2 separate regions of the Homo sapiens genome follow, and region 2 is linked to region 1. Evidence: fine-mapped QTL for protein levels in blood plasma. A gene starts in region 1. The other region holds a variant in brackets. All regions are shown on one strand. Distances are between the middles of the regions. Region 1 holds the start of FGFR2 (fibroblast growth factor receptor 2). Region 2 overlaps FGFR2 (fibroblast growth factor receptor 2).

Region 1 (15,099 bases):
AGGGAAAGAGAGAGGGGCGCCTGATTGCTTTTCTATTCAAACTAAACAGGCTTTTCAGATGAAAATGAGTCGAGCCCGGTGGAAGATTTACAGGGATTTGGGACCAGGGAGACAATGGAGTTTTAAATGTTGATAGCGTTTCACACCAAACACATAATGGGTGCCCTGAGTTTGAAAGCAGGTTTGCCTTTAAGGGTAGGTTTTATTGAATTGGGAGAAAGGAAGGAGGGTCTGGAGAACGGTCTGCAAGGGAGCGGGGTGCGAGGAGAGCGACGGAGGCTGGTGGTCCCCGAGCGGGCCTCCTGCGCCAGGTCCGTGGTCCGCGAGGGTCGGAGCCAGCGCCACGCAGGGCCCTCGGCTTTTTTCCCCAGCGCGGCCCCGTGGCCGAAAAAAATGAGCGCGCAAGTTAGAACTCGCCTGCGCTTTCGACATCTCCCAGCCGCTGCGGCAGAGCAGGCAGGCGAACTAGAAAAAGTCGGTCCAGTTCGCCCCCTAGCCCCAGGCGCACTGCGCTCCCTCCAGCGCCGACGGCGGCTGCGGGCGAGGGGCGCCCAGGCACCGGAGCCGTCGCCTCCCCAGCAGTGCCACCCCTGGCCATCGCCACCCCTACGGGATGTCACCGGCCCCACCCCAGCGGCCCCCTCCCGAAAAAGGGGTCTCCGCAGGGCCTGGATGGTACGGAAGTTCCCAGGACACACGGATGGGGCACCTCGGAGATGACCCCGGGAACCGGCCTGCGGGGCTGTGCCACGGGCAGGCGAACCTTCCGCCCGTCTGCTCTGGGGTCGGAGAAACGCGCCCAGTCAGCGGGAATGCGCCCGCCAGGGTTTGACAGGGAGGGGGGCGTCAACGCCAGAAGCAGATGTCAGCATCTGGATGGGGGTAGCAGAGGCAGAACTTCCAGAACGCCGGCCGTCAGCACGCACCCACCTCCCCCATCACCTATGCAGCCACAGAGGGAGGACACGGAGCGTCCTCCACAATGCTAGTCCTTCCGCGCCCCCCGCCCGGAGGACGGTGCACCCGGCGTCCCGGGCTCCCGTGGCGCCCACGTCCCCGGCTGGCGAAGCTCCCCGAGGCGTCTTGCGCGGCGATTACCTTGAATGGCAACGCTCCTCCGCGACCTGTGTTGTCCCCGCGCCCCGCGTGGGTCGGGATGGAGAAAGCGACGAGCCCGGGGTTGCGGGGAGCAACTCCAAACGCAGAAGAGTGGTCCTTGGGTCTTCGCCGGCGCCAAGCCTCCCGGGCTTCACGCGTACCCCAGGCTGCGGAGGAGCGCGGGCATGACGCCCGCGGGCTGCCCTCGGATTTGGGGAACGAGAGGAAGAAAGGACTCAGGCTTGGCGTTGCCTCCACCAAACTTTGCTCGCGAGTTGCGAAGGCTCAGAGCGCGCAGGCAAGCTGCGGCCTCGGGGCCCCCGGGGCTCGCGGCCGGCCCCCGCCAGCCCGGAGAGCAGTCGCCGCGCCGGGCCAGGTACGCCGCATGCAGCCCCGCGGCGCCCGAGCTTTGTGGCGGCCGCGCGCGCTCCCTCGCCCGCTCCGCACCCGCCGCCCGCCCGCTCGGCTCTCCACCGCGCTCTCCTCCAGCCGCCGCCCGCGCCGCCGCCGCCGCCCCCGCCTCCTCGCGGCGGGTCACGCCCCCACTGAAACCCGAGCCGTTTCCTGGACGGCGGCGCCCTCTCTGCCAATCAGCGCCGCGCGCCCGGGCCGCCCCGAGTCCCGCGCGGCTCCCGACGCCTCCGAGCAGCCGGAGACACCGGCCCGGGAGGCGAGGGCTCGGCCGCGATGCGGCCGTAGGGATGCAGCGACAGCCTCCGAATAAGGCCTGGTCCCGCGCCCCGCGCCACCTCCTCCCTCCTCCCCGGGCGAGCGAGGCTGGCCAACGGCTCGCTGAGCGACTGCGTTACGTTGTTTTATGTCAAGTTAGAAAACAAATGACCGAAGGCTCTAACCCTGCCCTCCCGCTAAAGAGACTTTAAAATGCGCCTGCTTGATACTGCGGGGAGGGTTGCCAGGCAGCTGAAGCTTTTGGAGGAGAGGAAGCCACTTGGAAATGTTCGCAGGACATTGCATGTTTCTGTCCTTCTAAACAATAGAAATGAGAGGAAAAAACTGAATATTAATGGAGGCCCTACTATGGGAGGGTCACACTACATAGGTGATTCTATTTCATCTGCCCAACCACCCTGCAGAGTACTATTCCCAGTTTCTGATAAGGAAACAGGATCAGAGAGGTTAAGTAATTTGCCTAGGACCACACAGCTGGCTACTAGGACAGCCTGACTTTGAATGTGGCTCTCTCAGAAAAAGCCAAAATTGCATCAAAAAAAAAAAGTGTTTAATAATATATGTTTGGATTAATAAAAAGAAATTCAAAGGAGTCTAAAGACAACTCTACCATAAATAGACCTTGAACAAAGTAATTCCTCCCTCTGAATCTTAGATTAAAAATCATAAATGCAAAATCTGATTCTTCAACTGCACACCAAGCTGTAACTGGTTAAAGTTCCTATGTCCATTTACCTTTTCACTAAGCCGTGTCTTCGGAATAATTTATTTTAAATATGCTTTTTCTCCCTCCTTATTCATCCAGCTCCTGAGCAGCCGTGCTTAAGTTCAAGACCATATAGATTAAAACCTTAATTATTTTTCTTTAGAAAAGGTCACTAAACCCAGAAATGCTTTAGAATCCTTTTGAGGCCTGAAGATAGATGAAGCATTGAGAACAAACCTGACTTGGAAAACAGACTTTTCCTGGATTTAGAAACATATTTGCACCTGTGTCACTAACATTGCACCCTTCATAACATTTACAAAAATATTTTTCAAGGTGCTACATGATTAGAAAATCATTTTTATTCACAAATATAGCACAGAAAACGTTTATGCAAGTTATTTAAAAGCCACACAAGTAAGAAATCCATTTAACTGCCTCAGGCAAAAGGCTATAACATTGTATTTTGGAAATTTGATAGCAACAAAATAAAAACTGGTTCTTAAGCAAAATTATCCCTCTATATGCTTGGTGGGAGGGTATGTTTTTGGTCAAGTCCTCTAACCTGGATTAGCCCCAGAGCCTATACATTAACGGACACCTCAGCCCAGGTTGACACTTAGCCATTCACTCCCACACGGGTTGTTCTGATAGCAGTATGTTTTCAAGTTCTCAGAAAAGGGATGCAGCTGAACGTGTCTGCCTGCTCGCAGGTTGCCACTTACATCTTTATATTCCCCACCAATGGGAAACTCGAGTGTCTCAGGACAGTTCCTTTCCCATCCTACACCGCATCCATCAGCCATTGAAAATGCTGTTAACACATTCTCACATAAATTAATGGTGCAGGAAGCCGCTGTCCCTATCCCCCATTCATCAATAGCTTTATGCATGTTGAATGGAAAGGAAGCTTTCCGCTGAAAATGACAAATAAGAACACCTACTTTCATGTCCAGGCACAGTTTGCAGAATGTATTTTTTATAGAAATGAAAAGACACCAATCTATCAAAAGCTCCTTATTCCCTAAAGAGGGCTCATATATAAGGGACTGAAACCCACAAGACCACAACAGGAAACTCTTCAGTTTTGAGGAGGGGGGGGAAGTATGTTTAGAATTATTTTTAAAAAATCAATTATGTCCCCATATTTAGTCTTCAAGTGACCTCAGACCATCCAGGAAAACCTTCACACCACTGAGGCTTCTGAATGAGAAAATAATCTCTTTACAGTTTTTTCTTTTCTCTTCCCTCTTCAAGTGGCTGGAACCCCTTTCGTCAATGGCCTCCCATGAATGGTGTTGCTAATAAAGCCTATTAATGAGCTTCCACGGCGGAGTGTGAATAGGTAAATAAGCCCCAATCTGTTGAGGTTCTGGGGCAAGGGCAGAAAAGCCAGTAAGAACTAAAGGTGACAGTTTGAACTGAACTGCGAACGCCAGCACCAGGTTTCAGCTGAAAGAACCGCCAGACAAGGACACATTCACAGTTCCTCCACCCCCTACTGAGGTCTCTTTTCTTCGCAATTTTCCCCCCTTTACAAAATGTCTTGAGTAGTCACCCTTTTTTTTTTTCAAAAGCCCTCGAGACGCCCTTCTTTTTTCACTCTAGTAATGATACATCAATGGGAAGGAAGAAAAATGAGGACACCAGAACTCCGATGCCCCCAAAAGTTTCAAGAAACAAATTGTGCTGCTAGCCCGTTGGTGATGGGAAGAGAAAGGAGAAGGGGGTGGGAGCGCTCACTACCATGGGCCTCTCTCCTTTGAAGATTTGGAATTTTTCTTTTAATAATTTGTTTTGTAATGGGTGGCTGTTCCTTCACTCTATGGAAACGTTAGATGAAATAAAGGCTGCTGACATGAAGTGCTCATGAACCTTCCCGGGTGGATCTGAGCTCCCTGCAACACCAGGAATTTCATTCTCTAAGCTACATCTCAATAGTGCCCTCGGCATAAAAGAAGCACTCAAATGGAAGGATATAGAATAGTCGGAGGACTATGATAAGAGTATTTACTTCTGGGTAAGGGGAGGGGCTGGATGCTGTGACAGCTCCAGCCCATCTTCAGGGAGCTTGTGGCATTTAAGTGAAGCAAAATCATTGATCCCACTACTGAACAGCATCAATGATTTTAAACTTAGAACTGGGCCTGAATTCCAAAGCCAAGGCTTCCCCGGAGACAAAGTCCTTCTGGAAGTATAGCCTCACTTTGAGGCAAAGGGGAATGGCTTTCTTAAGGTGAGAGGCTGGATGCAGCTTTCTTTACTCAATAGCTTTGTGACCTGTGGCCGGGCGCAGTGGCTCACGCCTGTAATTCCAGCACTTTGGGAGGCCGAGGCAGGCGGATCACTTGAAGGCAGGAAGTCGAGACCAGGCTGACCAACATGGTGAAATGCCGTCTCCACTAAAAACACAAAAATTGGCCGCTTGTGGTGGCGCATGCCTGTAATCCCACATACTCTGGAAGCTAAGGCATGTGAATCGCTTGAACCCAGGAGGCTGAGGTTGCAGTGAGCTGAGATCGCCCCACTGCACTCCAGCCTGGGTGACAGAGCAAGATTCCCTCTCAAAAAACAACAAAAAAAGGCCTGGCATGGTGGCTCACACCTGTAATCCCAGCACTTTGGGAGGCCGAGGCAAGTGGATCACCTGAGGTCAGGAGTTCAAGACCAGCCTGACCAACATGGAGAAACCCCGTCTCTACTAAAAATACAAAATTAGCTGGGCATGGTCGTACATGCCTGTAATCTCAGCTACTCAGGAGGCTGAGCCGGGAGAATCACTTGAACCTAGGAGGCAGAGGTTGCGGTGAGCCGAGATCGTGCCATTGCACTCCCGCCTGGGTAACAAGAGAGAAACTCCGTCTCAAAAAAAACAAACAAACAAACAAACAAACGCTGTGTTACCTCAGGCCAGTTGCTTGAGTTATCTGAGTTTTCCATTTTCTCAGCTGTAAAATGGGGAAAATAATGGTTCTTATTTCCTGGATTTTTTTTTTCTTTTTTTTTTTTGAGACAGAGTTTCACTCTGTCACCCAGGCTGGAATGCAGTGGCACGATCTCGGCTCACTGCAGCCTCCACCCTCAGGGTTCAAATGATTCTCCTTCCTCAGCCTCCTGAGTAGCTGGGACTACAGGTGCCTGCCACCGCGCCCAGCTAATTTTTTGTATTTTTAGTAGAGATGGGGTTTCACCATCTTGGCCAAGCTGGTCTTGAACTGCTGACCTCGTGATCCACCCGCCTCGGCCTCCCAAAGTGCTGGGATTACAGGCGTGAGCCACCGCACCCGGCCTCTCCTAGATCTTTAATAGGATCACTAAGAGGATGAAATGAGTTAGGACGTGACAAGCACTTAGTTTTTCTTTGTTTTTGTTTTTTTATTTGTTCGGGTTTTTTTGGTTGTTTTGTTTTTGCCTTTGTTTTTGTTTTTGTTTTTTGGTTTTTTTTGAGATGGAGTCTTGCTCTGTCATCCAGAGTGCAGTAGCGTGATCTTGGCTCACTACAACCTCTGCCTCCTGGGTTCAAGTGATTCTCCTGCCTCAGCCTCCCAAGTAGCTGGGACTACAAGCGCCTGCCACCACGCCCGGCTAATTTTTTTATATTTTTAGTAGAGATGGCATTTCACCAAGTGATCCACCTGCCTCCCAAAGTGCTGGGATTACAGGCGTGAGCCACCGCACCCGGCACTTAATTGTTTTTGTTTTGGTTTGGTTCGGTTTTTTGAGACAGGATCTTTCTCTGTCACCCAGACTGGAGGGCAGTGGCACAATCACAGCTCACTGCAGCCTCCAACTCCTGAGCTCACGCAAGCTTCCCACCTCAGCCTCCTGAGTAGCTGGGACTATAGGCATGCACCACCATGCCCAGCTAATTTTTGTATTTTTTGTAGAGACAGGGGTCTCATTATGTTGCCCAGGCTGGTCTCAAACTCCTGGCCTCAAGTGATCCTCCCTCCTTAGCCTCCCAAAGCACTGAGATTACAGGCGTGAGCCACCATGCCCAGCCTCGCTTAGACATTTTTATTCAGGTGGTCCTCATGGTTTGGAGAAACTTTGACACACGAGCAAGTCTCTTGAGGATTACTATCCATACACAGTAGTCCACCCTGATATGCAGTTTCCTTTGCCATGGTTTCAGTTACCCTCAGTTACCTGAGTTCAGCTGCAGTCTGAAAATAGGTGAGCATAGTACAATAAGATATTTTAATTGAGAGACCATATTCATATAACTTTTATTATAACTGTCCTTTTTTAATTAGTTTATTATTATTAATACTTTTTTTTTTTTTTTTGAGACAGAGTCTCGCCCTGTCACCCAGGCTGAAGTGCAGTGGCGCCATCTCGGCTCACTGCAACCTCCACCTCCCGGGTTCAAGAGATTTTCCTGTCTCAGCCCCCCAAGTACCTGGGATTACAGGTGCCTGCCACCACGCCCGGCTAATTTTTGTATTTTTAGCAGAGACGGGGTTTCACCATGTTGGCCAGGCTGGTCTCAAACTCCTGACCTTGACTGATCCACCCGCCTCAGCCTCCCAAAGTGCTGGGATTACAGGCATGAGCCGCCGTGCCTGGCCTATTATTAATACTTTACTGTGCCTAATTTAGAAATTAAACTTTCTCATAGTGTGTAAGCGTAGGAAAAAACATCCAAACAGGAGGCGTCACAATGCCCATCAGTGCCCACTGCTCCCCAGCAGCGGTCCAGGGGGAGGCAAGGACAGTGCCAGGCAGAAGACACTTTTCCTACTAGGAGAACCACATATAAGGGTGAACAAACCACTGTATATGGCTAAGAATAATCATAGAAAACACGTAACCTTCCCATGTGCCAAAGAGTTTCTCAATACCATGAGGACCATACAAATAAAAATGTCTAAGTGCTTGTCACATCCCAGTTCATTGAATCCTCTTTGACCCTATTAAATAGCTAAGAGATAGCAAAGACACCTCTGTTCCCAAGGAAAGAGCTTCTTGAAAACCACTAGGGACATCTGAATAAAGGCTGCCCTGCTCTAACCATTTCTTGAATTTCTGAGTGACTTGAACGGCACAGGTTGTTCTTCCGAAGGAGACCAGGCCTAAAGGTGAAGAAGTGCATGTCAAACCTATGACAGCGCATCAAGTATGACCCCTGGATTTTACAGGGGAAGAAAGCAGGGCACACAGAGGGATGATGGGCTCAAAGTCACCCCTCTGGTTAATGGCAGCAAAACCCAGAAAAGTCTGTGTTCCTGACTCAGCTGGGGTTACAATGGCCACTAGTACAAGTCCACCATGGCAGGTGAGTCTCACCCATCCAATGCCAGGCAATTGGCTCTTTCTAGGGGATTCCACATCTTTCTTTCTTTCTTTCTTTTTTTTTTTTTTTGAGACAGAGTCTCATTCTTTTGCCCAGGTGTTGCCCAGGCTGGAGTGCAGTGGCGCAATCTCAGCTGACTGCAACCTCCACCTTCCAGGTTCAAGCGATTCTCCTGCCTCAGCCTCCCAAGTAGCTGCGACTACAGGTTCCCGCCACCACACGTGGCTAATTTTTGTATTTTTAGTAGAGACAGGGTTTCACCATGTTGGCCAGGCTGGTCTTGAACTCCTGGCCTCTGGTGATCCAACCACCTTGGCCTCCCAAAGTGCTGGGATTACAGGCATGAGGCACCGCGCCCGGCCAGAATGGAGATATTTCAAGTAGCATTCATTGCCTCTGAAACTGTTACTATTTCCAGAAAACAATTACCCACTCACCATGAGTTCAGCTCACTTCTCCTCCTTCAAGTGCTCCAAGAAGGATTTCTGTAAGGGTTATTATTGTTGTTAATATTTCAAAGAGCCTTCAAGTTTAGGTGCATACGCTTGTTAGACACCTCTTTCACACACCTACAGTTTCATCTGCTGAATCTGCATAGTCTTCAAAATAGGGGAGGAATAAAGGAGCAATTTGTGGTTCACAGAACGACTATTGTCAATAACAAGTGGAAGTGAAAAATTTTTAAGAATTACTAAGACTTGCATTTGAGAAATTAAGACTTAAAACTCTGCGACACATTTGCAGTTTACAAATGAGTAATCGGGTTTGTTGCCCAAAATGCAACGGAAGGGCAATTTGGGAAACTTGAATGCATTCTGTGTTTTTAAAAAAATTAAACAAAAGCAGAAATCACTATAAAAGTGGGGGGGGGGATAATTGGGAAAATTTTAATATTGTCCAGATAGGAGATCATATTAATATTAGAGATTGAATATTAGAGATTGTTGTTAATTCACTTACATAAGATTATGACAGCTTGGCTTTGTAGGAAATTTTCTGTATTCTTATGAGATCCATGCCAAAGTTTAAAGGATTAAATGGCTTGATGTTTACAACTGACTTTCAAGTGGCTCAGGAAAAAAAAGGACAAACACACACAGATAAAGCAAATATGCAAAATGTTAACTCTTGACACTATACAGTTGAGAGTATACATTACTTATTGCACTATTCACCCAACTTTCTTAATGTTTAAACAATTTCACAATTAAAACCTGGGGGAACTCTAGTGGAGGGCATTATGGACTCTGACCCCAGTACTGTCCCTTGTGCCACCCCTGTGGCCACAAACACATTCCTACCTTTGGCTTCTGCCAATCTGAATCTATGAAGGAAAACTGGTAGGTCAATTAGCTGGTTGGCCAAGCCAGCTGCATGTAACATCTACAATGTCCAAGGTCTCAAGGTATTTTTGACAAGTAATGTGGTGCCATAGAAACAGCACTGAGTCAGGGCCCCCAAGACCTGAGTTTTTATCCCAACGTGGTCAAGGGCTAACTATGCAAGTCTAGGCAAGTTACTGAACAAGCCTCATCCCACCCCTAACCTTGGCCTCACCTTCTTTTGCATAACTGAAGTGTCCCCCTTCTATCTTAAAAATAAATTTATCTATGATCTCCGGCCTATCTCTGAACATTCCCCGCCTCCACCTGGAGCTGAAAACTTGTGGTTCACCCATCACTGAAGGCCACCCTGGTGTTACAGGAAGTGAACATCCTCTCCAAAGTATTCTGAAACCATAGTCTAGGAACCGTGCTGTTCCTACTGGTAACAAGTATCTACCGGAAAAGTCCTCTAATCCCTGGCCCATTGCTATTTAAGGGCAATTTATGGCATGTCATTTCTTGGCTGTGACTCCGTGCCTTTCAATCACCCCCACCCTCCACACATCACGACCACTTCCACCACAACGAGGTTTCCCAGCTCACTGGACAGAAACTATACAGGTGGTTTTAGCCAGGGTGGGGTAGATGAGGATGAGATTAGCAACAATATCCCGTCTGCTCCCACCCCACCCACACCCTTATCGCTGCCTGAAGCTATGCTGTCTGATAACGTTAACCACCAGCCAACATGATTATTTAAAGTTAAATCAATTAAAATTAAATAAGACTTCAGCTCCTCAGTAGCACCAGCCACAATTCAAGTGCTCAACAGTCACATGGGGCCAGGCCACTACATTGGAGAGTGCAGTATTATAGGGTATTTTCAACGTGGCAGACGATGTATTGGGCTGTGCTAGAGAGCACACCCTGCTTTCCGCTTCCTCCTCCAAGAAGACCTCCTTAGTCAGAGGAGTCCCCAGGAACTGCTCTTGCTCTCCCTCTCCAGGTCCCCCCGCTCATCACCCCTGGACTGCTCCCCATGCCCTAAATGGGCATCTTGCCTTACCAGGGTGGAGGTAGGGACAAGAATTCTACTCCTTAGATGGAGAACGGTGCAGGAGATACACGGGACAGGTCTTACTGTTGACAATGAAAACGATTTTAGCCGGGCATGGTGGCACACGCCTGTAATCCCAGCACTCTGGGAGGCTGAGGAGGGCGGATCACTTGAAGTCAGGAGTCTGAGATCAGCCTGGCCAACATGGTGAAACCCGGTCTCTACTAAAAAATACAAAAATTAGCTGTGCATGGTGGCATGTGCCTGTAATCCCAGCTACTCGGGAGGCTGAGGCGGAAGAATCGCTTGAACTGAGGAGGTGGGGGCTGCAGTGAGCCAAGATCGCGACACTGCACTCCAGCCTGGGACACAGAACAAGACTCCGTCTCAAAAAAAAAAAAAAAAGATTTTAGTCTGCACCATCACCTTCTGATCCTGGGGCCCCCTGGAAGCAGCTCCTGGTCTCAGTGGGAGTTTCTATGGGCCCTAAATTCCTCCCTTCGAGGATTCCTGCTCCCTCAAATCCTCAGAGATTCACAACTGTGTGCTTTCAGCCTCAAGCCCAGAGGGAGGAAAGGCTTTACTGAACCAAGATAGCCTGTCCATGGAAGAAAGCCTAGCAGAAACTGACCTTGGACAACAATTTTGGTGGAAAGGGGTTAATTGGGGACCACTAAATGCTAATACTCAGAAAGGCCGGGGCTGCATCTCCCATCTCTAGATTCCCAGGACCTGGCACTACCTGGCTAGTGGGAGCAGTTTATGGGGCTGTGTTTATACCTTACAGGCTCTTAATAGATGCTTGTTGATTGATGACTGCAACTCAGCCTCCTCCAGCATTTCCTAATTAAAGCATAAGTGCAAAGAGGCACATGTACATAGGTTTGTGTACACAGTGAGCACGGTCTCTTTAGAAGGTGGGGAATAGAAGCCAGTTTAGGACAAAGCTGATTGAGCTGTGTGAGGAAGTTACCTTTCCCTGCAATTACCTCATTTCCACGATGCGTTTCTTTCTCTTTTCTCTTGATTTCTGCCTTTGCTACACTCTTTCCCGAGGGTGTGTCTACTTCTTCCAAATGTGAAAAGAAGTTCACTTTCGCCAGGCACGGTGGCTCACGCCTGTAATCCCAGCACTTTGAGAAGCCAAGGCGGGCGGATTACCTGAGGTCAGGAGTTCGAGACCAGCCTGGCCAACATGGTGACACCCCGGCTCTACTTAAATACAAGAATTAGCCGGGCGTCGTGGCACACGTCTGTAATCCCAGTTACTCGGGAGGCTGAGGCAGAACTGCTTGAGCCCGGGAGACGGAGGTTGCAGTGTGCTGAGATTGCGCCACTGCACTCCAGCCTGGCTGACAGAGTGAGACTGTCTCAAAAAAAAAAAAAAAAAAGAAGAAGTTCACTTTCATAAACCAAAGGGGAGAAAAATGATGCTGCCAGGATCCTGGTAAACTCGGGGAGGGAGTGGAGAATACAGAGCCCCACACATCGTAAAACCACAAACCTAGTAACCCTTTTAGAGTCCCAGAGCTCTCGTATTGTGTCCCCAAGCTGGGGAGAAAGACCATCAAGTGGGGAGCGATTTCTTTAACAGATTTCTAAGAGCAGCGCTGAGCAAAAATTAACTCCTTCGCGGAGGCCGGATGCTGGCCTGGCGCTGGGGCAGCGCCCGGGAAGCAGGTGGCTCCAGGTGAGGGAGGCCGAGGTCCCGGGGCGCCCTTTGTTCTCCGGGTTCTGCGCAGGGAGGAGCGCATCGGGCGCCAGCGCCCCCGTGTGGCCGCGAGCACCGCGCGCGCAAAGCGGGGGCGAGCGCCGCCCGGGGCGTGGGTGACGGGGCTGGCATCAAGGTAGAGGGCGGCCGGGCAGGGAGGAGGGGCAGCCCCGCCAGCGCCGAGCCCAGCCCTGAAGTCGTTTCGGCTGTGCAGATGATGAGCGACCCAGGTCGAGGCGAATCAGGAGCCCAGGTGCTTGCCCAAGCACAGCTGGACGAAATGTCTGTTACCCCGACGGCTGGGGCGCGGGACCTTGCAGGGACGTGGTGCTGCAGCGGCCTCTGCCTGGGCCTGGCGTGCGGCTACCTCAGGCTAATTCTCCATTCGCTGCGTGGATTCGCCCCCGGGAGGCGGCCCCACGTTTCCAGCCTGTGGATCAACAAGGCGGAGAACCACCTTTGCACCCTCGCCGGGAAACCAGCTCCTACCTCCGGCCCCCTGTTGGGCCTTCTGGCCCTGGTGTTCTCTGGCGCTCCTCTCCCACCAAGGCCCGGCAGTCCTAGCTGTGGGCTGTCCTCTCTCTCTCTCTCTTTTTTTTAACCTCTACCTCCCGGGTTCAAGCGATTCTCCTGCCTCAGCCTCCAGAGTAGCTGGGATTATAGGCATGTGCCACCATGCTTGGCTAATTTTTGTATTTTTAGTAGAAACGGGGGTTTCACCATCTTGGCCAGGCTGGCCTCGAAGTCCTGACCTCGTGATGCACCCGCCTCAGTTTCCTAAAGTGCTGGGATTACAGGCCTGCGCTACTGCACCCCTTGGAGCTGTCCTCTCTTGAAAGCCACCACACCTGCTTCCTTCCTAGTCTCACCACAGCTGCCCTGGAGAGGTACCTGCCAGATTTGGGGCAGCCTCCGCCTCTGGTCTCTCCCCTGCCAGTCACCCTGCCCAGAGGTGGGGACCCCTGTCCTGCCCTTTCATCAGGCCAGTGGAAGCTTTGAAGGTTCCACATTTTCAGGAACCATGGCAACGGCCCTCTTAGCACAGAGTGGGTGCTTGGAGGCTGACGTTTATTGGGTGCATACCATGTTCCATGCAACTGGGATTATGGCCTTTAATGGGTGATCACACTTCAATCACAAGCACCCTGTGAGGTAGCACTACTGTGACCCCCATTTTATAAATCGTGCTATGGAAACACTGAGAGCTCATCCAAGGTTACACAGTCGGGAGGGAGGGCTGACCCTGGAGCCTGTGCTATCGCTTATGCTGCCAGCGTCCCCGTGACGGTGATGGGGTAGTGACTTCAGCTGATGAATGGAAACAGAGGCTAAAGGGGCTGATTCTCCTGATCTTCCCAGAGAAGTTGGCTGTCCCATCCAGATGACAATTGTCCCAGTTTTCAGATGTTGACTCCTTTTCTAGTGGGCCTGTGGACAGCAGGCTGCACCCTCTGCTGTCCTATAGTGGCTGAGATCATGGGACCTGGAGTCCAGCTGCCTGCTCTGGGCCTTACATCTGCCCCTCCTCACCACGTTCTCATCTGTAAAATGAAGTCATGCTAATACCCGCTTCACACAATCTGCGCAGATTGAATGGAATACTTCAGGTGAAGTGCTGAGTGCATGGTGAATGATCAATACTTGTCAGCTGGTACTAGTATTTCCAGACCAGAGGCATCCAGACCTCCCTCTGCAGCTCTGTCTAACCCTATCCTACCCCTGACCTTATTACTTGCTACTTCTCTTTGCTGTGTGACCTGGGGTAGGTTACTCGGCTTTTATGAGCTTCTGTGGCCTTATTTGTAGGCTGTGAATATTAGCGGTAATCATCTTCAAAATTCACCCATAATGGTATTGATTTCAGTAGCAGCTTAGGCTGTCCAGGGCAGGGGACTTGCTCACATTCTTCTAAAGTTCTTCTTAGCATCACGTAGAAATTCATTCCAGTGTTGACTCATGACGGTCAGCAAATTCTTCACCTTATCCAACTGAGTTATCTTTTGCTTTAAATTTCTATTTAAAGAAATCCTCTGTATACGAGGAAAGGATCCATTTGTTTTCTTTGTAAAACTCCTCTGTGTGCTTCAAGCAAGCATTAAGATAATGGTTACCCTCATCTCCTCTGAATCAGATAAGACATGACTTCAGAGCACTGCCGAATTGAGCCGATAAAAGTACAGGACACCCAGTTAAACTTGAATTTCAGATGAAAAACAAATAATTGTTTTTAGTATAAATAGGTCCCCACTATCGCATGAACAAATAGTGCATGGGACATACATCTATGAAGATAGTCATTGTGTATTTGAAATCCAGATGTAACCAAGTATGCTGTATTGCATATGGCAATGCTGTGCTGGCTAGAAGCCACACCCACAGGTTGACTAGTCCGGGCAAGTCCAAGGGAAACAATCATTCTTCCAGGAAATCATTGAGAACTAACACCCTTCTCCTTCCCGCCTGTCTATGCCCAAAAACCCCTTTTAGTATTGGGAGGCGCGCCTGACCAGAAATTCTGTCATGTTTTCCTTGGGGTTGGTTTCCAGAGCCACTGTTGTGGCAGCTTGGGCCTGTTTCATAGTGATCAATTTATGTATTGACAGAGCTATTGAATATTTGGTGATAACTGTAATCATCTGTTCTAAGTCTGCGTTTCCTCCTGAATGAAGTAATAACCCCTGGTGTTTAGTCTGCACTATTGGGAGTGATGTATAACACTGTTGGGATGTCAAGTGTATATGACATGTGCAGCTGTGGTCACTTCCCTGGACGGAGTCTTGCTACATGTGGAGCGTCATTTACGCCGCCAAACAGGGCTGCCTGGAGCTAGACAGAGCCAGACAGAGCCGCCATCCATTTTCCAGAGCCCAGAAACCGTGTCACCAGGGAATGATACGACATCGGCCTTCCTGCCCAGGGCTGCTGTGAGGATCTAGGAGAGACTGCCAGCAAAGCCTGAGACGGCCACTGTGTTTCTTCCCCTGCTCTGTCATCCAGTGGGAGCTGGTGGGTGAAATAGAGCCCCTTATCTAAAATGGAGCCGACCAACCTCCTGCTACAGAGGTGCCCACACCATTCACTTTCCTGGCTGTTTCCAGTGCCTGCCCTGCTTCTCTACCTGGCTCTGATTCTCAGAGCCTGTTTGCCTGTTTTCTTTTTTCCTTCCTTCCTTCCTTCCTTCCTTTCCTTTCCTTTTTTCTTTTCTTTCTTTTTCCT
Region 2 (15,099 bases), 31 kb before region 1:
AGGAGAGAACGTCCAACAAAGGTCAGTGGAGGCCTGCTTATTCCCAGGAGAAGCTGTTCTTGCTCTGCAAATGGCCCCAGCAGGCATCCACCTCTCCCCAAGCCCCAGGAAGTCAGGAAGTATCTGGAAGAGCAACCAGAGGATACCCCCAGAAAATCTGTCCTGACTTAGTTTCCACATCCTATGGGGCTTTAGAAACAAACCAAACCATAGCATGGAAGAATATTCCACAAGAAAATGTTTAAATTGATTGCCAAAGCGTGCTTGCAC[T/C]GTAATACCTGCAAAAATCTGTTATTGTGGTATGTTTTATTTGTAAGAATGCCGAGTTTTACACATTTGTACGTGAAACGTGACTGTGCGCCACACACACATACACTCTTTATTATTTGTGCTAGACTTGGTCTGTTGCCCCAAGGCCAAGCTTCTTAAAATGAAATGTCTCAAACTCAAGGAAAACTAAGGGATCCCTCTACAAGATTTTTTGCCATCCAGAGTTTTCATGAGCTCTCATGTTCAGATCAGTACTTTGCCGGTTTAGAGACCTAATTCTGTGCTGGGTGAGCTGAGACCTGCTGTTTTCCCAAAATGATAAAAGCCTAGAGGCCTTAACACCAAAAACAAAAAGAGCAAAATGCCCAGACAGCTGCAAGGCAGTCTCCGTTGCACTTACAGGGGTCCTGAAATGAAGCCGCTGGGTGCTGTGTGCCCCCGACTCCACACGACAAAGCTGAGTCCCACCCTGCTCACCAACACCCACCACACATGTCCCAGGCTTCTTCTGTAGGGACAGTCCTTCCTCCCTCTCTTCCCTGTCATCCACCCTCCAAGACCCAAATCAAGCAGGGTCCTCCGTGATGGGAGTCACCTTGCATCAGTCCCCCTGGGCGGAAGAGCACTGGCTCCCTCCCCCTCCACCATACACCTGCCCACTTTGCCAGCTCATGGGATGCACCATATTCTCATGAATGCATCCCATCTCCCCACGGAGACACCAAGACCCTAGAGAAAAGGCGTGGGTCTCATGGTTCTCTGTGCTTCCCGCCACCGACCCCATCCTGCTTGGCAGACACATGGCCATGTCAAACAAGGTCACAGTTCCCAGATATGCAGCACGGGATTGGACCCACAAGGATCCAACCCACACAACCTCTCCACTGGAGTTGAGAGGACACCACTGGCATTTATTAATAACAACAGCTGGAGCGGCCAGCTGGGATGGCCACGAGGGCCCAAGAAGGAGGCTTTCATCCCTCCAGTGAGAAGTGTGAATGGGACCCAGAGTTCCAGGCCTAGAAAATGCAAAGCTTCCCAGCACTGAGACAGCACCAAATCAGGGCAGGATCAAAGGCAACTGTTTTGCCTAGACACCCCTCAGAAGAACAAATCTCCCACAGGAGACTGAAATCAAGTCAATCTGTGTTTCAGTCCCACTGTGAAAGGAGCAAGGGCCACATGCATTGGGGACAAGAAATCCCCCTCACCACCACCATCAACAGCCACACAGGAGGCCCGGGGCTTCTCAAGGGGGCATCACCAAAGGCATGCATGCCAAGCCCCAGATGCCAACTAGCACGTGAACACAAAGAGAGAATCACAACAAAAGGAGGAAAATAGAAGCTAAATGTAACATGGACAAATGCACCCCAAAGCAAGGAAAGCCCAGCTGACGGGCAGGTTATGTTTCTAACATTTGTTTTCTCACTCAGTAATTATTTACTGCATGTCTACTATACAACAAGCCTATTCTGGAAGCTCCGCAGCAAGAGGAGACAAGATAAAGACCCTGCACTTGTGGAGCGTCCATTATGGTGGGGGTGACAGACGATAGATACAAAATCTACAAAAAATACAGTGTTCTTGCTTAAGCATTAGGAAGAAGGACATGGCAAGGTACGGGCACACACAGCAGTGGCAGAGGAGGGCTGGTCCCTTGGCAGGAGGTGGCGGATGATGGCCCGCGGGCCAAGCCAGCCGCAGCTTGTTTTTGTAAACAAAGCTTTATTAGAACACGGCCATGCCCATTCCTTATTGTCTGGCGCTGCTTTTGTGTGTTACAAGGGCAGAGTTCAGTCATTGCAACAGAAACCCTGTGGCCTGCAAGCCCTACAATATTTGCAGTCTTGCCTTTGCAAAAAGTGTTTCAATCCCTGTTGTATAAGACAATCAGAGAGACTTCTCCAAAGAACAGGCATTTGAGCTGAGAAGTGAAGGACAAAGCGAAGTTTAAAAGATGTTGGGAACTTAGTTTGAAGGCTCTTAGAGCAGGTCTCTCAAGGCTGGTTAAGTCAAAATGCGGCTGAATTGAGTGACTAATAGAAATACTTTAAACTATGGAGACCAAACAGAAAAAAGAAAGGAAGAGAAATATGAGAAGGAGGAGAAGACGGCAGGGATTCAGTCTGGTCCCAAATCTTGGCCCATCTCCCACTCCCAACATCCTAGAGTCACAGATTCACTCAACATGAGAGCTGAAGGGGCCCCAAACGCTATTGGTCCAACCCCTTTGACAGCTGGCTAAGGCAAGGACCAGATGTCCTTTGAGTCCCAGGTCTCCAACAACTCATTGCTGAAACAGCACCCACCATGTTAGAATGAATTTACATTGGATCAGTCTGGGTCATAAAATGATCAATGTCTATTATGACAACATCACATGATCAGCAAGTCACCAGAAATGTTATGGAATGTACTTTCCTCTTAGCCAGAATTGATCACCAGGGCAGCCGCTGAGCAGAAGCAGCAAAGCTTCCCTCCCTCACAGGGAAGGCACCTGGGACCCACACACCAATCTGCTCCATCCTGACCCTCAGATAAGGTGCAACCATGTCCCTATGTCACGCAGAGGAATGCTCTAAGACTCCATTAGGGGGAAAAAAAGAAAAAAAAAAGATAAGCAAGGCATTTGCAATTGTGATGCAGAAAAAAATCTCTCTCCCGGCAAAGGAGGAGTTATGATGTATGATTTCCTGTTTTTAAATGAAAGTGTTTTCATTGAGAATCCTTTCCTTCACCTAAAATCAGTAAACCCCAAAATCTTGCTGAAACTGGGGGTATCTGAGCTGCTGGACTACCACGTGCTGTTCTAGAAGGAAGTACAGGGGACAGCGAGGACCTGTGTCTTATTTGGAGCTGGACATGGGAGATGCCTGGTGAAGGGTGCTGCCCTGGACGAGAAGAGGATGAAGCCCTGAGTTCCCACGCCTCTCCATTCCTGCTTAACCTTTTGGCCTGGTGTTCCCCATCTGTTGCAGGGTAAGAGTACCCAAATACTGGTTTATTATTGGTAAGATTCCAATGAGCCAACGAAGATGAACCTGATCATCAACTACAACATGTCGGGCTAATGACTGTCACTATTACTGTTACTCTTCAAGGCGGAAGATGCTTGCCGTGATTTTTTAAGCACCACGATTTTCAGAGGATAATCACAGAACATCTGGGTTTCTTTTTCTTTTCTTTTCTTTTCTTTTCTTTTTTTTTTTTTTGAGACAGAGTCTTGCTCTGTCACCCAGGCTGGAATCCAGTGGCACGATCTCGGCTCACCGCAACCTCCGCCTCCCAGGTTCAAGTGATTCTCCTGCCTCAGCCTCCCAAGTAGTTGGGATTACAGGCGTGCACCACCACACCCAGCTAACTTTTTTGTATTTTTATGAGAGACAGCGTTTACCATATTGGCCATGCTGGTCTTGAACTCCTGACCTCGTGATCTGCCCGCCTCGGCCTCCCAAAGTGCTGGGATTATAGGCGTGAGCCACTGCGCCCAGCCAGAACACTTGGATTGCTATCTCCAGATACAAAGTGATTTTACAGGAGTCCCATCTCAATGGACAGTTAAGATGACTTGACGTACTAAAACTGCTTTTGATCCCAGTAAAACCAGATCAAAACTGTCATCTAGATATCCAAGCTTCAAGGATAGTAAAATATCACCCCCTAAAATACACCAATGAGATAATGATGTTTATCCATAAAAATCAAGCCATCCTGTCTTCAAAGTCTCAAACCAGTAACTGCTGTCTTGGTAAACTGAGAAAGCAAGGACTCCTCCCTCCACCCCTTCAGTGGTCATTTCACAAAGGGCCCATTTTGGGGATCAGCGGTGCCTTTAGTAAACATGCCAGTAATACCCCTGGGTATCCCAGAAGACTCTGCAAGCACATGTTAGGGAGAATGCATGAATAAACACACAAGAGAGAAAGAGGTTGGGGAGAATAAAAAGAGGAGGATGTAAGTAAGAAGAGAGGCAGGGATGGGGTGGGGCCATACGCTGGGGAGGGGCCAAATGCCACACTGGTAGCCTCCCAGGCCACCCAGTGGCCCCCCAAGCCCAGCCTGCAGGGCCCAGCACACACGACACATATCAAAGACAACCCCGGCCAGGGGGCCAAGAACACAAGCACCTAACAGCTGGCTCAGTGGAAGCAGCTCTGTCCCTGCCCGTGTCCTTGGGTCCATTTGCCGTCCACAGGGCTTAGCTTCTCTTCTGGGTTTGAATGCTGCAGGTGACCTGACCCGCTGCCCACTCCCTGCAAACATGCACTCCCTGAGCCCTCCATGTTCATCCCCACAGTTGTACTGACCTGGCCCCAGGCTGCGCGGAGCCAGGACAATCAGAGAATCCCCTGTGCCTGCATGTGCAAAGGGGCCTCCCTAACTCTGGTCACCCCCCATGGATGGACAACCTCTCCCTGACTCCACCAGGCTGCACAGCCTGCTCTGTGAAAGAGCAAAGAATTCCCCAGGAAATGTACATAACTCCTTTTATAGTCATGTGAGCACTTCCTGGATTTACTTTTTCCCATTGCTGTGGCATACTTTTCACCTTTCCTGTGCGAATCCACCAGGGGTGCACAGCCCAACATCTCCCTCATCTCCTGCCAAAACGCAATGGGGAGAAGGTTCCAGAAGCCGCCTTGCTATGCACAAATGCTCTTTCAGAGGCTTCCACAGACAGAGAATATGTTTCCATGTATTTTTCACAATATGAATTAAAAGTCGAAAAGAAGCAAGCAAGCTTCACAGTAGTATTGGCCAATCTTTGTCACTGTTTCCTAAAACTGGTAAACAAACAAGGCACCAAGTCTCCTTCCTGGGACACAGCTCAACACTCGTTTCTACTGCCGTGGCCACACTACTGCAGCCCTGCTGCATAAAGCTCAGTTGCATCCACGTGAATTTTCTCCCAGAAGTTTCAAATACTTGGGAAGTACCAGCAGCGTGTTAGCAAGCAGCCTTTTTTTTCTTTTTTTTTTTGAGACGGAGTCTGGCTTTGTCGCCCAGGCTGGAGTGCAGTGGCGCGATCTTGGCTCACTGCAAGCTCCACCTCCCGGGTTCACGCTATTCACCTGCCTCAGCCTCCTGAGTAGCTGGGACTACAGGAGCCTGCCACCACACCTGGCTAATTTTTGGTATTTTTTTTAGTAGAGACGGGGTGGGTTTCACCATGTTGGCCAGGATGATCTTGATCTCCTCACCTCGTGATACGCCCACCTCAGCCTCCCAAAGTGCTGGGATTACAGGCGTGAGCCACCGTGCCTGGCCTTTTTTTTTTTTTTTTTTTTTTTTGAGACGGAGTCTCGCTCTCTCCCAGGCTGGAGTGCAGTGGTGCGATCTCGGCTCACTGCAAGCTCCACCTCCTGGGTTCAAGTGATTCTCCTGCCTCAGCCTCTGGAGTAATGGGATTACAGGTGCATGCCATCACGCCTGGGAATTTTGTTGTTGTTGTTGTATTTTAGTAGAGACAGGGTTTTACCACGTTGCCCAGCCCAGTCTCAAACTCCTCAGCTCAGGCAATCCACCTGCCTCCGCCTCCCAAAGTGCTAGGATTACAGGTGGTAGCCACCGCACCTGGCCACAAGCAGCTTCTTTAAAAACAAACAAACAAACAAACAAACAAACAAAAACGACTGGCCGGGCGCGGTGGCTCGTGCTTGTAATCCCAGCACTTTGGGAGGCCGAAGCGGGCGGATCACCTGAGGTCAGGAGTTCGAGACCAGCCTGGCCAACATGGAGAAACCCCGTCTCTACTGAGAATGCAAAATTAGCTGGGCATGGTGGCGCATGCCTATAGTCCCAGCTACTCGGGAGGCTGAGGCAGGAGAATCGCTTGAACCCAGAAGCTGGAGGTTGTGGTGAGCTGAGCTCACGCCATTGCACTCCAGCCGGGGCAACAAGAGCAAAACTCCATCTCAAAAAAAAAATAAAAAAAAAAATTGACTGTTTTGATACTTTAAAAATGAGAGAGACAGGTACTTGTACAGCTAATCAAAAAATAAATGGGCCAGGCACAGCAGGTCATGCCTACAATCCCAGCACTTTGGGAGGTCGAGGTGGGAGAATCACTTGAGGTCAGGAGTTCAAGACCAGCCTAGGGAACATAGTAAGATCCTCTCTCCACAAAAAATGAAAAAAAAAAAAAAAAAAAGCCGGGAATGATGATAAACACCTGTAGTCCCAGCTACACAGGGGGCTGAGGTAGGAAGATCGCTTGAGCCCCAGAGGCTGCACTGAGCTATGATCGCGCCACTGCATTCCTGCCTGGGTGACACAGCGAGACGAGAACCTGTCTCCAAAAATAAATAAGTAGCCCAGGCACAGTGGCTCATGCCTGTAATTTCAGCACTTTGGGAGACCAAAGCGAGTGGATCACCTGAGATCAGAAGTTCGAGACCAGCCTCACCAACATGGTGAAACCCATCTCTATTAAATATAAAAAATTAGCTGGGCGTGGTGGCATGTGCCTGTAATCCCAGCTATTTGGGAGGCTGAGGCAGAGGAGAATCGTTTAACCCAGAAGGTGGAGGTTGCAGTGAGCCGAGACCATGCCATTGCACTCCAGCCTGGGCGACATGAGTGAAACTGTCTCAAACAAAAAAAAAACACAAATAAATAAATAGTATGAATAACAACAGGCATCTGCACATGAGCTGTGAGTAATTCCTGCCTTGACCTGGCCTTCCTTCCCTAAGAAAACCATCCTGTTATTCCTTGGGAGCTCATAGGACCTCTGACTGGGGAGAGAGAGAAACTGAGGCAGGGGCTGCCTGACTCTCCGAGCCCCTCAGCAGACCATTTGACATCACACAGAGTGCCACTAGCCACAAGCTGCATGAATTTACCTCTCTATAAGTAAACAGAGAGAAAAAAATCCTCGCTGTGTGTGAAGATAGCCCCAGGAGGGGGAAATCTTGTAAAAGTCAAAAAAGGCTGTGACTTATGTGACTTCACTGCACACATCCAGCTGGACTTCTCACCCATCTCAGCGGGAGGGTTGTCTTGAGACAGTTGAAACAGCAAAAGGGTTTGGAAACGGTAAGCTATTTCAGGTAACACTTTACGTTGCCAAACCAGCGATAGCAGCACTTCAGACTGTCACTTTTTATAATGTTTGCCTATAAACTTTTCCCGTGTGGTTTTTGAAATGGCGCCCAAATGCAAACAGAGAACAGATGGGAAACCTGAGTCTTGCCCCGTCCAATCACTTCACGGAGAATGGACGACAGATTTAAACTGTTAAGGAAGAAAAAAGCAGTTTCTACCAACGGCACAGCTCCCTCCATTACTTTTCACAAATTAAGCCTTTTCTGGGGTTTCCCAGGGATGGTGTCTTTTCCAACGTCTAGATCATCCTAGTTCCAAGGATGCGGTGGGGTCGTCCTGGAACCCATCCCACTGAGGTTTCTCCCTCCTCCAAAGTCAGAGGTGTCCAATCCCTAAACACATTCCTCCAGGAAGAAGAAAGAGAGAAAGAAATCCCTGAACAGACTCCTCTGGAAGAGACAGAAGGATGAAAGAGAGGGAGAGGGGGAAAAAGGAGAGGAGAGACGGAGACAAGGAAAAGGAAGGGAGAGAAACAGAGGGAGGGAGAGGAAAGAAGAGGAAGGCAAGAGGAAGAAAGAGAGGGGAAGGGGAGAGGAGAAAGAGGGAGGGGCAGAGAGAAGAGGCAGGTTAGGAGCACACCCGGGAGGCATGTCCTGTCAGGGTTGTGGGTTGCAGGAAGAAACCCGTTTGTACCTGGAGGCACAGCTGGGACTCCCACAAGCACTGTAACAGGAGCGCTGCGGGAAGGGTAGTAAAATGGCCTTCGGTTCCCGGTGCCCTCCCACACCTCCTGCCACCTTGTACAGAGTAAATGTCACGGCTGTAGGGCTGTAGGGCTGCCAGTGTCTCTACAGGAGAAACACAGTCCGGCTGCAAATGTCGCTACATAGTCACTGCACACAAAGCACATGGCAAGTAAGTGGCCGCCACTGTCCTCCCTGGTCCAGTAACCCCCAACTGGCCCTCTTAGTCTGGAAGATGTCCTGTAGTGGCCACGCCCAGTCCCAGTAAGAAGTCCTCACTGGTCAATACCCAATTCTCTGTCCGTAGGAACAGAAGAGAGATTTCTGCAAGATAGGGTTTCTGGAAGAGCCCAGCCCCCTCTTTCCTATGGCACAATCTGGGTATCACTGGCATCAGAACTTATCAGCAGAAAGAAATAAAGGCAATGGAGGCCAGGTGCGGTGGCTCATGTCTGTAATACCAGCACTTTGGGAGGCCCAGGCAGGTGGATCACTTGAGGTCAGGAGTTCGAGACCGGCCTGGCCAACAAGACGAAACCCCGTCTCTACTAAAAACACAAAAATTAGATGGGCATGGTGGTGTGTGCCTGTAGTCCCAGCTACACGGGAAGCTGAGGCAGGAGAATTGCTTGAATCCGGGAGGCGGGGGTTGCAGTGAGCCCAGATCGCACCACTGCACTCCAGCCTGGGTGACAGAACTAAACTCCATCTCAAAAATAATAATAATAATAATAATTAAATTAAAAAATAAAGGCAATGGAGTCCCGCCATTGAAGTCAGAACCAACCACCTTTGCATGCCCTGCCATGAGGGCTGTGTACACAGCAACGAAGACAGCCTGCTGCAGCCCAGACATCCTCAAAGCCTCCCCTCTGCAAGAGCCGACTTGCAAGAAGACCAAATTCCTCACATCAAACAGAGACCTTATAAGGCATAGGTACTACGTGTTCTTTAAGGGGGCGAGGAAGGGACAAATACTCCGCACAATATAAAGGTGAAAGTTCTCTACCTCGAGAAATACTGCCAACATAAAAACGGAGAACAAAAAGAAGTCAAAGCAACAAACAACAGATAAGTACGCAGGATGAAAGGGTGCAGTCCTCTCTTTCTAACCAGTTGTCAGGGTGTCTGGTAGACACAAGTCGGGACTGAAACCTCCCTGGTCGCTAACAAGGATGCCGGTAACAACAGCTAACAGCCGCCTCTGCAGCGGTAGCTGGATTTCTCCAGAAACTCCAGACTGGCTCATGTTCCTAGTCATCAGATGGGATCATGGCTAATGTTTCCAATATGGTAACCATTAAAAATTATATATTTAGGCACACCCCTCATATCATTTAAGTCTGCCTTTGAGAAACATGCTGGATGGCTCTTCATGTTTGAAAGAAATTATATTGTTGCCCATGAGAAAATAAAAATGCACACAGAGTAAAGAGCCTAAGAATGCACTTACTGAGGAGTGAGTCACCGTGTCTCCCAATGTCCCCACCCACAGTGGAAATCCGCACTCCCTGTTTTGTCAGTATCCCTCTTGCTTTTGATCTGATGTTTTCGGCTGTTCATGACAGTGTTCTCCAAAAAAAGATGCACAGAGGGAAGGTTTTCTCTCTGGTCCCAACACGTGTATTAAAGTCATATTTCATGAGTGAAAAATTCCTGATGGACCACTAAGACGCAGGTATTGAATCAGTACTGTGTGCATAAACTCCTAGATATGGGCAGCTTTGCTTGCATAAGAACTTCAAAATTGAGTCCTGGCCGAGTGCGGTGGCTCATGCCTGTAATCCCAGCACTTTGGCAGGCCGAGGCGGGTGGATCACCTGAGGTCAGGAGTTCAAGAGCAGCCTGGCCAACATGGTGAAACCCCATCTCTACTAAAAATACAAAAATTAAGCCAGGCATGGTGGTGCACCCCTGTAATCCCAGCTACTCGGGAGGCTGAGGCAGGAGAATCGCTTAAACCAGGGAGGCAGAGGTTGCAGTGAGCCGAGATCGTGCCACTGCACTCCAGCCGGGTGACAGAGCGAGACTTCATCTCAAAAAAATAAATAAATAAATAAAAATAATAATAATTTAAAAAAATAAAAGGCCGGGCGCAGTGGCTCACATCTGTAATCCCAGCACTTTGGGAGGCCAAGGAGGGTGGATCACCTGAGGTCAGGAGAGTTCAAGACCAGCCTGACCAACATGGAGAAACCCCGTCTCTACTAAAAATACAAAATTAGCCGGGCGTGGTGGCACACGCCTGTAATCCCAGCTACTAAGGAGGGTGAGGCAGGAGAATCGCTTGAACCTGGGCGGTGGAGGTTGCCGTGAGCCGAGATCACGCCACTGCCCTCCAACCTGGGCAACAAGAGCGAAACTCCGTCTCAAAAAATAAATAAATAAATAAATCGAGTCTTTTGTTCAGAAAGCATTTCCCAAAGCGACAGGCCATTAGATCATGTAGCGCCCAGGAAATAGATACTTACGTTACAAGCTATGTTGAAGTCCTGCACGCCCCGGCTTGGATGTACAATGAGGAGTCTGTGTGCCTGGCTGCCTGGCCAGCCCAGCCCGAGCCTCCTACCTTCTGAAAATACACTTGCTGGACATAGCAGAGAAAGCTGGTACATCTCCAGCCCTTCAGGGCTTCTTGGGACACACTGTTCTGGGGAAAACCCTTTCATCAAAAGGCATGTGGGGGGCTCACAAGGAGGTGAAGGAGTGAATAGGATGTGCCTGGCCTTTAATGACCCAATCTTAGGGTGAAGAGTGGCCCTACAGAGTTGTCACTCTGTAAAATGAATGCATTGTGATCTCCAGTCCTGAAACTGAACCCTCTGGTCTCAAAACACTTCCATTCCCTGAGTCCTAATGACAGTGCTCAGCCAGAGGCAGCTCTCTTCATCTTACAAAGTAGTAAAGCACCTGTCTCAACAGACAGCTATACCCCAAGCCTCTCATGGTCCCTTAGCAGTAAGGCTATGGCCTCATTTTTGTCCCTTCTCTGGTGACTCTTCAGAAAAGGCTGGGGGTGTTAAAGGTACAGACCAAGGCCGGGCATGGTGGCTCATGCCTGTAATCCCAGAACTTTGGGAAGCTGAGGCAGGTGGATCATTCAAGGTCAGGAGTTCGAGACCAGCCTGGCCAACATGGGGAGACCCCATCTCTATTAAAAATACAAAAGTTAGCTGGGCATGGTGGCAGGCGCCTATAGTCCCAGCTACTCGGGAGGCTGAGGCAGGAGAATCGCTTGAACCTGGGAGGCGGAAGTTGCAGTGAGCCAAGATCACGCCACTGTGCTCCAGCCTGGATGACAGAGCGAGACTCCATCTCAAAAAAAAAAAAAAAAAAAAAAAAATATATATATATATATATATAGAGAGAGAGAGAGAGAGAGAGAGAGAGACACCAAACAGACCTGTCACTGACACCGAGACTATGCCACTTACAAATCGTATGACCTTGAGGCAAGTCCTCGGAGCAGGAACAATAATAAATGAGATAGGACACAGAAGGCACCCAGCACAATGTCTGGCACTTACACATCTGCCATCAGAAAGACCTTCCGGCTGAAATCCTCACTCCTCCGCTAAACAGGAAAAAAAGCAAGGCTGCCTAGCCAGGTCTTCTCAGTGTGGAAGGTCAGGAAATGAGAGAGGAGGGGGCAGGGCTCCTGGTCTATTTCTCAATCCCTAACACAGAATTGGGGGTTAATTATCTTCGGTTAGCATTCTGCTTCCTGCTGGTGCGTACATGTGCGTATGTGTTCTTATGGACAGGAACATGTCAAGGAGGACTTCTCGCCTTTCTAGGAAATTTCTCCTTCCCTGCCACCCCTCCTGTATCCATGGATATACCCAGAATTCTACCTCTGGCTCTTCTGGTCCTTTCCCTGCATTCCAGTCTCCTGGGCACGTGTGGCTTTTCCCACCTCCTCCCCGCAGATGCCACTCAAGTCCCTGCTTGTAGGTTCATATTTCCACCTGCCCGGGGGGAGGAAATACATAACCTGGATGTCTACAGAGGTCGTATCCAAAACAAGCAAGTGACCTTCAACCTCCTCCTCCTCCACCAGCCTCTTCTCTTACACGATGAAGGGAGTCACACCACTGAACTGCCGCCCAAGCTCCAAGTCGGCCCTGAAGCCCCTCTTTTCCTCTGGCCCTTCCTCTGATCAGTCCCCACACCCCTTCACCTATTAGGCCTATCCCTGATAGAAAGCTTAGCTCTGAAAGAAAGTACAGGCAAAACTGCATCCCACAGGTCTCCTCCAGTCCTCCACAAGACCTCTGCAATGCGCCTAACCCATCACCCATGGTGCGCCTCTTGTAGCCACCGCAGACCCCCAGAGGAATCTTCTGAAAAGCACATGATCTCTACTCTTTTAAAAAGGCACAGACCACTCCAAAGTCAGAGAGAATAAAACCCAAAGAACATCATGGCGCATTGAGGCTTGGTTGCTCCAAGCCCCACATCCCTCTCTCTGACACTCTGGCTTACCTGTCCACATGGGCACTGTTCCCTCTACCTACAAGCCCACCCAGCTCTGCTGCCTGGCAGGCTCCTATTCAGCCCAGTTCCAACAGCTCCTCCGTGAAAATCCCGATTCCCATTAAGACACTGCACTGCTCCCATCTCGTCCTGTTCAGCCTCTAGGACATGCACAGCCAAAGACAGTCTGCGTCCCCAGCCCACTCCACCCAAAAGGTGTACGGAGAGGGACTGGAGTAGGGATCAATGCAATGTTTCTCAGACTTTACTGTGCGTAAAACCACGTGGTCAGTTTAAGACAGCTTCCTTGCTCCCACTTCCAAAGATGCTGGGTCAGCTGGGCGCTGTGGCTTACGCCTGTAATCCCAGCACTTTGGGAGGCCAAGACAGGTGGGTCACTTGAGGCCAGGAGGTAGAGAACAGCCTGGCCAACACAGTGAAACCCTGTCTCTACTAAAAATGCAAAAATTAGCCAGGTCTGGTGGCAGGAGCCTATAATCCCAGCTACTCGGGAGGCTGAGGCAAGAGAATCACTTGAACTTCGGAGGCAGAGGTTGCAGTGAGCCAAGATTGTGCCATTGCACTCCAGCCTGGACAACAAGAGCAAAAGTCTGTCTCAAAAGGAAAAAACAAAAAAAGATTCTGGGTCAGTAGGCCTGCAGGTGCGGGCTGACATTCTTTATTTCCCACAGGTGAGGCCTGATGCTGCTGGTCCAAGACCCACACTACAAGAAGTTCAGCTCCAGTGTCCAAGGATGAGACTTTGAGACCCGCCTCTGCCAGTAGTGAACGTGTCAGCTTGGACAGCCTCACACCGCTGAGCCTCAGAGTCATGCTTTAGAGAAGAGAAAAACATCTCCAGTGCTGCCTGCTGCAGGGCAAGGTCACCACAAGGACACAATCAAAGGCTGCCTAGGAAGGCCTCTGTATATTTAAAGTGAGGGGCACGTCTGAGAGCAAGCACTCCTCATCCTGGCGGGCGGTTGGAGGTAGTGGGGGGTCCCCATCCTGCAACTCAGCCCTGGCCAGGAGGGCAGTCCTGGGTTCCTGTTTACGGGGCGTAACTGGCCTGCAGATTGCTTTTTCCAACCATGTGAGAGCCTCTATTCGCATTCCTCTGACTTCAAAACAGGTTTTCTTTCAAGTGAACAAATAGGTCTCATCACATATAAGTTACCTAAATGAGGATTCCTGGAATGTTCCCAGAGACTAAACATCTGAAGATTTTGTGAGATTCATCATTATCAACACCCATGTATGATGCCTGTTTAATTTACAAAGAGGCCTGTGGCTTCTTAAAATACCTTCTACTATTCATCCATCCAACACATTTGAGAGTAGCTGATATTTGCATGTGGGGCACAGTAACACACCACAGAATTCCCTTGAGATGAGAACCCCAGCAGGGCTCAGGAGCCGGATAACTTACCCTAGCCCCACAGCATGCCGAGAATAACCCTGCAAACACCAAACCATGGGCAAGAGTCCCCACAGCTGTGCCTCACGCAGTCCACAGAGCTAAGGGCCTGCGTTACTGCGAGTTGGGGCGGCTGGCCTGCATTCCAGAGAGCATACCCTAAAGCCTGACTCATTCCAGAAGCAGGTTTTCAGGGACAGTCACCTTGCCACACTTACTGTTACCTGTGGCTCCTAGAAGCTGCTGCTGGGACAAGCTCACCTCCCTGATATTGATGTAAACATTCAATAAATGGTGCATACTCCAGCGGATACGTTTGCCCTGTATGGCCCTGAAAGGTCAGATAGATGTCCAGATCCCGTTTGACATTTTCCCCCAAGCCCATAGAGCAGGCCCTCCCACACTGCGCACTTTCTGAATAAAGAAATACTTTTAAAGTGGCCAAGGCTACAAAAGAAAAGGGAAGGTTAAGAGTTATTCCAGGAGGGCAAGGCTGCCTCCTGCTTTCTCAACTCAGGACCTTCTGGGGGTACTGTTTGGCAAGTTGATTTAAAGGGCTCGGCCTTTCTTCTCTCAGCAGGATCTCGGTTCCAACACTCCTTCAGAGTCTGCAGATGTGTCCCCGCCTGATCCCCTCAGCAGCATCCCAGCCATTTGCAAATGAAGCAGCAGCAGCTGGAGACTGGGAAACAGATGGTCTTCCTCATTTGAATGGGTTTGAACGGTCTGCTTGAGGCTCACCAAGTTCAGGCCTGGCCAGCATCTCGAAACCCGTGCAGACGCCTGAAGGCACAGAGTTGTGGCCTGGGGAGCCGGCAGCAATCAGCTGAATGGGAATGACCTGGAGGAAAGGTTCCCCACACTGCCTTCGGGTGGGCGGGACACGGTCCCAGCTGGTTTTGCACCGCAGGACCCAAGGAAGGCAGGTCGGAGCCACAGGGATCACTTTTCTCCTGTGTTTTGCAGAGGAAAGAAAAACTCTCCCTCAGGGGATCCTGAGCCAGAGGACTGAAACCCACATTAATTCAGGACATTCCACGTTAAGAGCCGGCGCCATCACAGTTAACCTTTCTTCCCTGCTCCAAACCGCATATTTGCATAGAGGTAAAAGCTTCAAGAAAACAAACAAACTTTGAAGAGTCA

The links. A credible set is the group of variants that fine-mapping cannot tell apart. PIP is the posterior inclusion probability: the model's chance that the variant is causal. The UK Biobank Pharma Proteomics Project read protein levels with antibody pairs (Olink). The fine-mapping took linkage between variants from a reference panel, not from the people measured, so its PIPs are less certain.
Region 2: its variant is the best candidate, but not a certain one, in a credible set for the plasma level of the FGFR2 protein (UK Biobank, PIP 0.53).

What each region holds. Positions count from the first base shown.
Region 1 is chr10:121,596,864-121,611,962 of GRCh38, forward strand. It overlaps FGFR2 (fibroblast growth factor receptor 2), which reads right to left and starts at 1,581. Exons shown (of 18, transcript NM_000141.5): 1 at 1,099-1,581. RefSeq lists enhancers at 1-51, 52-787, 13,685-14,884 and a silencer at 11,845-12,084.
Region 2 is chr10:121,565,754-121,580,852 of GRCh38, forward strand. The region is part of intron 2 of FGFR2 (fibroblast growth factor receptor 2); the gene reads right to left. Among named protein-coding and RNA genes, the nearest start is that of FGFR2, 25 kb to the right of the region's middle. RefSeq lists silencers at 13,862-14,156, 14,462-14,756 and an enhancer at 14,482-15,099. The variant T/C (reference allele first, on the strand shown) is at 271.